Homo sapiens: one gene and its partner. The protein of the gene in region 2 interacts with the protein of the main gene of each other region in a pairwise test. Each region holds a gene or a part of one and is shown on either strand. Other genes may lie near its edges. The genes, in order: CETN3 and SGSM1.

The links.
Region 1: the proteins of SGSM1 (region 2) and CETN3 interact in binary tests that used the Homo sapiens proteins (3 or more experiments, as listed by UniProt).

The regions. Positions count from the first base shown.
Region 1 is NC_000005.10:90,392,530-90,396,353, reverse strand, and holds part of CETN3 (centrin-3), read left to right. Parts: intron 1-2,246; coding exon 2,247-2,290; 3' UTR 2,291-3,824. UniProt on the Homo sapiens protein: Plays a fundamental role in microtubule-organizing center structure and function. As a component of the TREX-2 complex, involved in the export of mRNAs to the cytoplasm through the nuclear pores.
Region 2 is NC_000022.11:24,809,056-24,812,879, reverse strand, and holds part of SGSM1 (small G protein signaling modulator 1), read right to left. Parts: intron 1-3,824. UniProt on the Homo sapiens protein: Interacts with numerous Rab family members, functioning as Rab effector for some, and as GTPase activator for others. Promotes GTP hydrolysis by RAB34 and RAB36.

The DNA of each region.
Region 1 (3,824 bases), on a different chromosome or scaffold from region 2:
AAGATTCTTGAAAGTAGTTTGGAGTATTACAGATTTTGTATTACGTTCTTACCATGTTTGTCATAGTGTTTTGTAGATGTTAAATACTGATTGCATGGCTTCATAGTTCCCTGTCAGCTTCTGGAGGGTGCATTTTTCCTAACTCATAGCTTATTTCTGTGAGGCATACACTATTCTTTCTTTGACTGTATTTCTGATGGTATTCTCCCACCCCAGCTCTCTTTCTACTTCCTTTCCAAATTCTGTATTTTTATTTTAGAGCCCAAGTAATGATTTACCTTTACCTAAATTTTTCTTATTAGTAATAATTTTTACCATTGTGAAGGATTTTTTTTCAACACTGATTTGGTCTTTGTTTTAATAATAAATAGTATTTTGTGTTATAAAACATTTGTTCTGTTTCAAGTATAAAAACTGACTAACATAGTTATCAAAACCGGTTTTCTATGTGGTTTCTAGAACCAGTGCAGTATATATTCTTTTCATTCCCTATGACCATGTTTTATCTCCTCAACATTTTTTAATTGGTTAATTTTTTCTAACTGTTCATTATGAATATTCTCAAACAGAAAAATTGTCAGACTAGTACAATGAACACCATTGTACCTTCTGCCTAGATTTAGTAATTAGTATTTTACCGCATTTGCTTTACCTGTCGTGTGTATATTTTTTTCTCAATCATTTGAAAATAAATTTCATATATCAAGAACTCAGTCTTTAGGCCAGGCACCATGGCCCATGCCTGTAATCCCAGCACTTTGGGAGGCTGAGGCAGGTGGATTGCTTGAGCCCAGGAGTTCAAGACCAGCCTTGGCAACATGGTGAAACCTAATCTCTACCAAAAATACAACGATTAGCCAGTCTCATAACCCGGTCTCTAAATTAATTAATTAATTAATTAAATTTTAATAATAAAACAAAAACTTGATCCTTTAATATTTTAGCATATCCATCTACTAAGAACAAGGATATATCTTTCATAAAGCTATGATACCAATGTTACACTTAAGAAAGTTAACAATAATTTTATAATATCATATAATATCTTTCTCATTTCGGTTTTAATGTATTCCAGAATAGGAAGCCTGGTGTCTGTTTTGATATATTACGCAACACTTATTGTGGTGTTGGCATTCACTAGCCACTTAAAAATGTTTGATTCAATGGAGTATTTTCATATAATACCTTCTATGGTAAATAAGAGTTAAACAATCTAAAACATCATCTCATAGTTCAGTGTTTTCAGATGAAGGAAATGAGATGCAGAGCTGTTCTGTGCAGAGCTGTGACTAGAGACCAGGTCTTAAGTCTCAGTGTAGTTTTCTTTTGGCATTATCAAAATTATCATTCATAATTTATGCATTGTTTAGGTATGTATTAAGTCTTAGGGCTAAATGCTAAATACTTACCAGAAGTATCTTCTGAACATTTTTCTTAATTGATACGTGCGCATATGTCGGGTTTTCAAAATTATATTCTATAAGATTATCTGATTTCTTATTTCTAGGTTGCTGTCTTAAACATTATGTTTTATAAATTGGAGATTCTTACTATATTTATAATTTTGGCAAACTAAAAATTAGTCCTTATCCATGATTATTTTCTGCCTTTACATCTATATAGTTACTGGATTACTTTGGTGATTAAGATTACATCTGTAATCTTTTCAAATTGCCATTTTTATTGATACCTTTGAGGTATGGTGACCTGGTTTTAATTATTCTTTAACATAGGCTTTTAAGTATATAAAAGTTCAAAAAATAATAATTTAACTTCTTTTTATAATTTTATTATATTTTCATTCTTTAGAAATCTAATTTACATGCATGATATGTTCAAGCTTACTTGTAAAGGAAGGATTTGCTAAATGAACTAGTAGAATAAAGATTATAAAGAGGGTTGTTTAAAGAACCTTGAAATGTCAAGCATTTAAAATGTTTTAGCAAGTATGTACAAATATGACTGTGATTGACTTTTTTGGTAACATTATCTTTTCCCCAGTTAATATTATAGAATACTAATTTGTAATGTTTATCACATTATATGTATTTTTGCATCCAAGAAGTTACATTTAATAAACATGTTCCACTTCCTAACAAAGAAGTAAAAGCAAAAAGCCATGTCTTAATGTAATAATTTTGCATAATGTAAAATTTTTTAAATACTTAGTGTAAAATGGTAGTCGTGGATTCTGAAAAAATAAAATGTTTATATTTCTGACTATTTCATTTTCTTTCTTACCACAGTAAACCAAGAGGAGTTCATTGCTATTATGACTGGTGACATTTAAAGAATTACAAGGATAAACACTAAGAATGTTGCAGTTACCATCTTATATTCTATTTTTGTGCCTGGAGCCATGTGAAAAAAACCAACTTAGTTCTTTTATCCTAAAGGACCAAAAATAAGCATCTTATATATCTGTATTTTACTACTGTTAAGTTTCTTTGTATGAACTGTGTTGTTAGTACTCAGATAGTTTAGCTTTGTATTTATAATAGAGCTTTTATATAAAGTTTTAAAAATTGAATGTGTGATATGTGTTCTTTGAAGGTTTTTTAATTTAACATTTATAGTCACTTTTTAGTGCACACATTTTCCAGACTTTCGTTAATAAAATATTTATTTTATTAGAATTTTAAAGTTTGGTAAATTTGTTTTTATTCCTAGTATCTGTTAACCCTCAAGAGTGGATTTCTTAAATCTTCCCTTTATAATTTTACTAGTTTCTGAAACAAAAATTGAAATACAATTAGCAATAGAGTGGCACATTTTTCCATTACCTAACATTTCATCAATTTTGACATTCTATATTTTAATACAAGCTGACTCAATATAAGCCTAATTCCTTTTTTAAGAGTCCTGTCTTTGAGTTTAGAAGGAATAAGTATTGTGCAGATAGACCCATTTATCCTTGTGTATTATGTTTCTTAACTTGGTATCATTGTAAGTATGAAAGTTAATTTTCTTCTGAATATTTCCTTAAACAAATTGAATGAATACAATTTGAATTTTCTAACTTCTTGACTGAGAGATTTAAATTTTGGAATTTTGATTTGTTAAGGTAATTATCACTCAATTACATGTCACAGTGATGAAAATAGAAAACTGTAAGCCACAGAAATAATTTAAGTCTATGTTTTACCTATATGAAGGAACAGTCTGTGATTCACCAGGAAATAGTAGAGACACAGTTTCCAAGTACTGGTGGGCTCTTCTGCCTTGTAGAAGTGTATGTTAGGGGGAAACAAGTGGTTATGGAGATCGATCATAGAAAAAAATAGTACCTATATGGATCCTTCACTCATATCTAGTACTCGGTGTTATGGGCTCTCCCAGGAACGGAATTGAGTTGTCTATTTCAGCAATCTTTCTTTAGAATTCTTGTTTTAAATTTTTAAGTTTAAAGTGTAGTATCATTTGAGGCGCTTTAAATGTTGTGAGCCTTTTAAGAGTATTACATTAAGGGTTGTCCACTAGAAATTTAACACAAAATCAGTAGGGAATACTATAGCAGTAGTGACATTTCAAACAGTTATCTAGGAAGCAAGTGTATATTAAGTCATTCTTGTATTGCTACGAAGAAATACCCAAGACTGCATATTTTATAAAGAAAAGAAGCTTAATTGGCTTACGGTTCTGCAGGCTTTACAGGAAGCATGGTGCTTCTGCTTTTGGGGAGGCCTCAGGAAGCTTACAGTCATGGTAGAAGGCAAAGGGGGAGCAGGCACATCACATGGTGAAAACCAGAGTGAACAAGTGAGAGAAGTGCCAAGTACTTTGAAACCACCAGATCTCATGAGAACTCACTATTGTGAGGACAT
Region 2 (3,824 bases):
TCAGTTTGCAGCTTGTAGAACAGGGCCTGGCACATAGTAGATGCTTGATAAATATTTGTGGGAGGAAGGAAGGAAGAACGGAAGTGGGGGAGAAAGAAAATAACAGAGGGAGGGAGAAAGTTTTCTTCTAAGAGTTGGCAGAAACTGTCTATCCTGGTCCCTGCTATTAGCTGAAACTTCCTGAAGTACAGCCCTAAGCAAAACCCTCCCTTGCTCATAAATCTTCTATAGCTCCCCATTATCCACTATGGGAAGTTCAAATGGCACAGCCTGGCACATACAGCCCTGCACAAGCTGGGACTAATGGACCTTTCCTGCCCCATTTCCTTCCCCTGCACATGCCTGAAGCCAAGCTGTGTTTCCAGGGACTTTTCTGAAGCTCATAGCTGCCCACCACTGCCCACTGTAAGCCAAGGTCATGAGGCCATCCCCCTAGATCTTGGCAACATGAGGTTTGAATCCTGACTTCTCCACGGACTGACAGTGGGACCTTAAAGCGAGCTGCATAACATCTCTCTGCCTCCAGTTCCTCATCTATCATGGAAAGAGATGATGGTTCTCTCCCTTAGGGCTTTTATGAGGAGTGAAGGGGATAATGCTCAGAAAGTTCATGGCACAATGCCCAGCACAGAGGAAGCCAGAAGCCCCCAGCAAACACGTAGGAAATTAGGAATGCCTAATTTTTCTTTTCTTTTTTTTTTTCTTTTTTTGAGACGGAGTCTTGCTTTGTCACCCAGGCTGAAGTGCAGTGACGCCATCTCAGTTCCCTGCCACCTCCACCTCCCGGGTTCAAGCGATTCTCCTGCCTCAGCATCCCGAGTAGCTGAGATTACAGGCGCATGCTACCACACCCGGCTAATTTTTGTATTTTTTGTAGAGATGAGGTTTCACCATGTTGGGCCAGGCTGGTCTTCAACTCCTGACCTCAAGTGATCCACTCAGCTTGGCCTCCCAAAGTGCTGTTACAGGCATGAGCCACCATGCCTGGTCATAATTTTTTTTTTTTTTTTTGAGACAGGGTCTCGCTCTGTTGCCTTGGCTGAAGTGCAGTGATGCGATCACAGCTCACTGCAGCCTCAACTTCCTGGGCTCAAGGGATCCTCCTGCCTCAGCCTCTCAAATAGCTGTGACTACAGGCATGCACCACAATGCCTGGCTATTTTTATTTTGTTTTCTGTAGAGATGGGGGTCTTGCTATGTTGCCCAGGCTGGTCCCAAACTCCAAGCCTGAAGTGATCATCCCACCTTGGCCTCCCAAAGGGCTGGGATTACAGGCATGAGCCACAGTGCCCGGCCAGGAATTGCTAATGTTATTACATAGTCCAATCTCTCTTCTATGGCCTAAGTCCATTTTACAGGTGAGAAACTGAGGCATTCTGGGGAAGTTTCCCCTAAATGACATGGCTAGGGAGCCAAGACTTCGTTCCCTGCCCCTGCCCACCCCCACCCCGGCTTTAGACTCCAAATATGCATTCAAGACAATCTAAAAGCAGTAAGAATGAGTTGTTCAAGAACAGTACATTCGTATCAAATTAGCCTAGAGAAGTGAAGGGCGCAGCAGGTGCAGGATGGGTAGGGTGAGCGGGGAGCAGATTTTCCTGCCTTAACAAGAGTTATTCTGGGCTGGCCACTTCTTTGTGCTCCTAGTGGTGGTGGGCTGAGGGGGTGTCTTGTGTATTGCAGGAATGTGAGCAGCATCCCTGGCCTCTTCCCACTAGATGCTGATAGCACCCCCAACTGTGACAACCAAAAATGTTTCCAGACATTGCCAAATGTCCCCTGGAGTAGGGTTGCCAGATTTAGCAACACATACTCATACTAAAAACTTACTCACTGTTTATCTGAAAGTCAAATTTAACTGGGCGACCTGGATGTTATCTGGCAACCAAACCTAGGGACGGGAGACAAAACTGCTCCCCTTCATTAAGAACCACTGGGTCACAGTAAAACTGCAGGGTCCCCATGGTAACGTCAATTGCTTCTCTCGTTTTTCTCCAACCTTCTTAGCAAGTCCTGCCTGCCTCTCCCATCTCATCACCCCTAACCCAGAGGCTGGGAGGCTCAGTTCTCCAAACAGGCTCTGTTCAGCAGCTATGATGATGGCTCCCCAATTACAGCCCTTCCACCAGCTCCGGTCGCAGAGCTAAATGTAGCTTCCACTCCAGGACCTGCCTCATCTCCCTGTCTCCTTCCTGGGGTCTCATCTGCCTCCCACCAGCCCCTGCATTCTCCCCTCCAATTAAGAGGCTTTCTAGGCCCAGCCCAGAGGCAGGAAAACAAGGCAGTTAGTCACTTTGCTTCCATTATCAACTGGCATCACATGGCTGGCTCCTTTAATGGCAGTTGTTATGGCAACGGGAAGCCAGTCCCTGCTCGCTCTGGGAACCAAAACAAAATTAAGGGTTGGCAGGGAGGGTAAAGGAAGCCAGGAAGGAGCCAAGATAGAGCTGGTCAGATTTAACTGGAGGAAATCACGCTGAGGCCACCTTGTTTCCAGCTTTCTCTTGGTGGTACCGAGGACAGAGGGAAAAAAAAAAAGGATGCTTGCCCTGGAGGAGCTCAGGCTAACGTGGTGGGTGTTCTCGCAGGGTTTATCTTGCCAGCTGAATCATTTTCATCCCCATTATGAATAAACGGAAACCCACACACTGATAAAGGTAAAGACAGATCTTGTCTAAGATTGTGCAGTGAACAGGCCAGCAATTTCAGCTCCATCACCTTCTTTCCCTGTTCTCGATGTCCTCCCCATTCCTTTCCCTTGCTTTTGGGATAAGACCACATGTTCCGCCTTCTCCGCATCTGCACCTTTCTCCTTTGTCTCTGCTCCGGTCACTTCGGTTCCTTCAAATTCACAGTGTTCCCTCCAGCCACAAAGCTTCTGCATGTACAAAACCTTCTGCCAGGAATGGTTTTTCTTAGTGTCTCTCAACCCTCTTATCTTCACCTTAAAGTCCTACTCATCTTGCACCTGTCTTCTGAAACGTCATATCCTGGGCCCCTGCACATGGTCAGTTGTCCCTGTTTTGGGTTCTTGCAGCCCCGGGTGCCTCTCCTTCACATCTCTGTTCACAGCCTGTAATTATCCTTGTAATTTTGATAAGGTAACTGTTGGGAGTGTGTTTCCTCCGCTGCAAGGTCAGCCCCAGGAGGACAGGGACAGGGCCCATCTACAAGGGGCCTGTCCCTGCTATATCCACAGAACCTAGCCCAGGGTCTGACACACAGCCCTCAGTAAATAAACACATCTGGGGTTGGAATCCAGCTCTAGTTGAGCCCAAAGTTCTTCTTGACCTGCCTCATGGGTGCTGTGTCCAGCTGGCTCCCCAGGCCAGCACTGGACAGTTTCCAGCTCCCAGCCTCTGTTGGCCCCTTCGTGGCTGCAGTGGCTCTGGCAAACCTTGCAGAGCTGCCCAGCCTATCTAGAGATGTCGATTGTTAAGGCACTCCTTCTAGAAAGAAGGCTGGGGAAACAGATGTACACACAGAAGACAGATATACACACAGACACATGTAGATATGTGTACATACAATGCAGTCTCTGGGTGAGGCTGTGACAGGCAGAGATGTGGCTCCTTTGAACCCAGAGAGTGGGGAGGAGGGAGATCTGATTTGACTCTCAGATTTCTAGGCAAAGAGCTTTCCCTTCTGTTCCACTAGAGACTGGCTCTCTGACACTGAGAGAGATGCTCCCCAAAGAGGTAAGCAAAGGAAGGAAAGGACAGGGGAGACGTGCTTTGGGGGGCACCGAGTTGTTGCCATGTTCTTAGGGTACCTATGTTGAATAGGAACTCAAAAGACAGAAGAACGGAACCTGTTCCCTCACA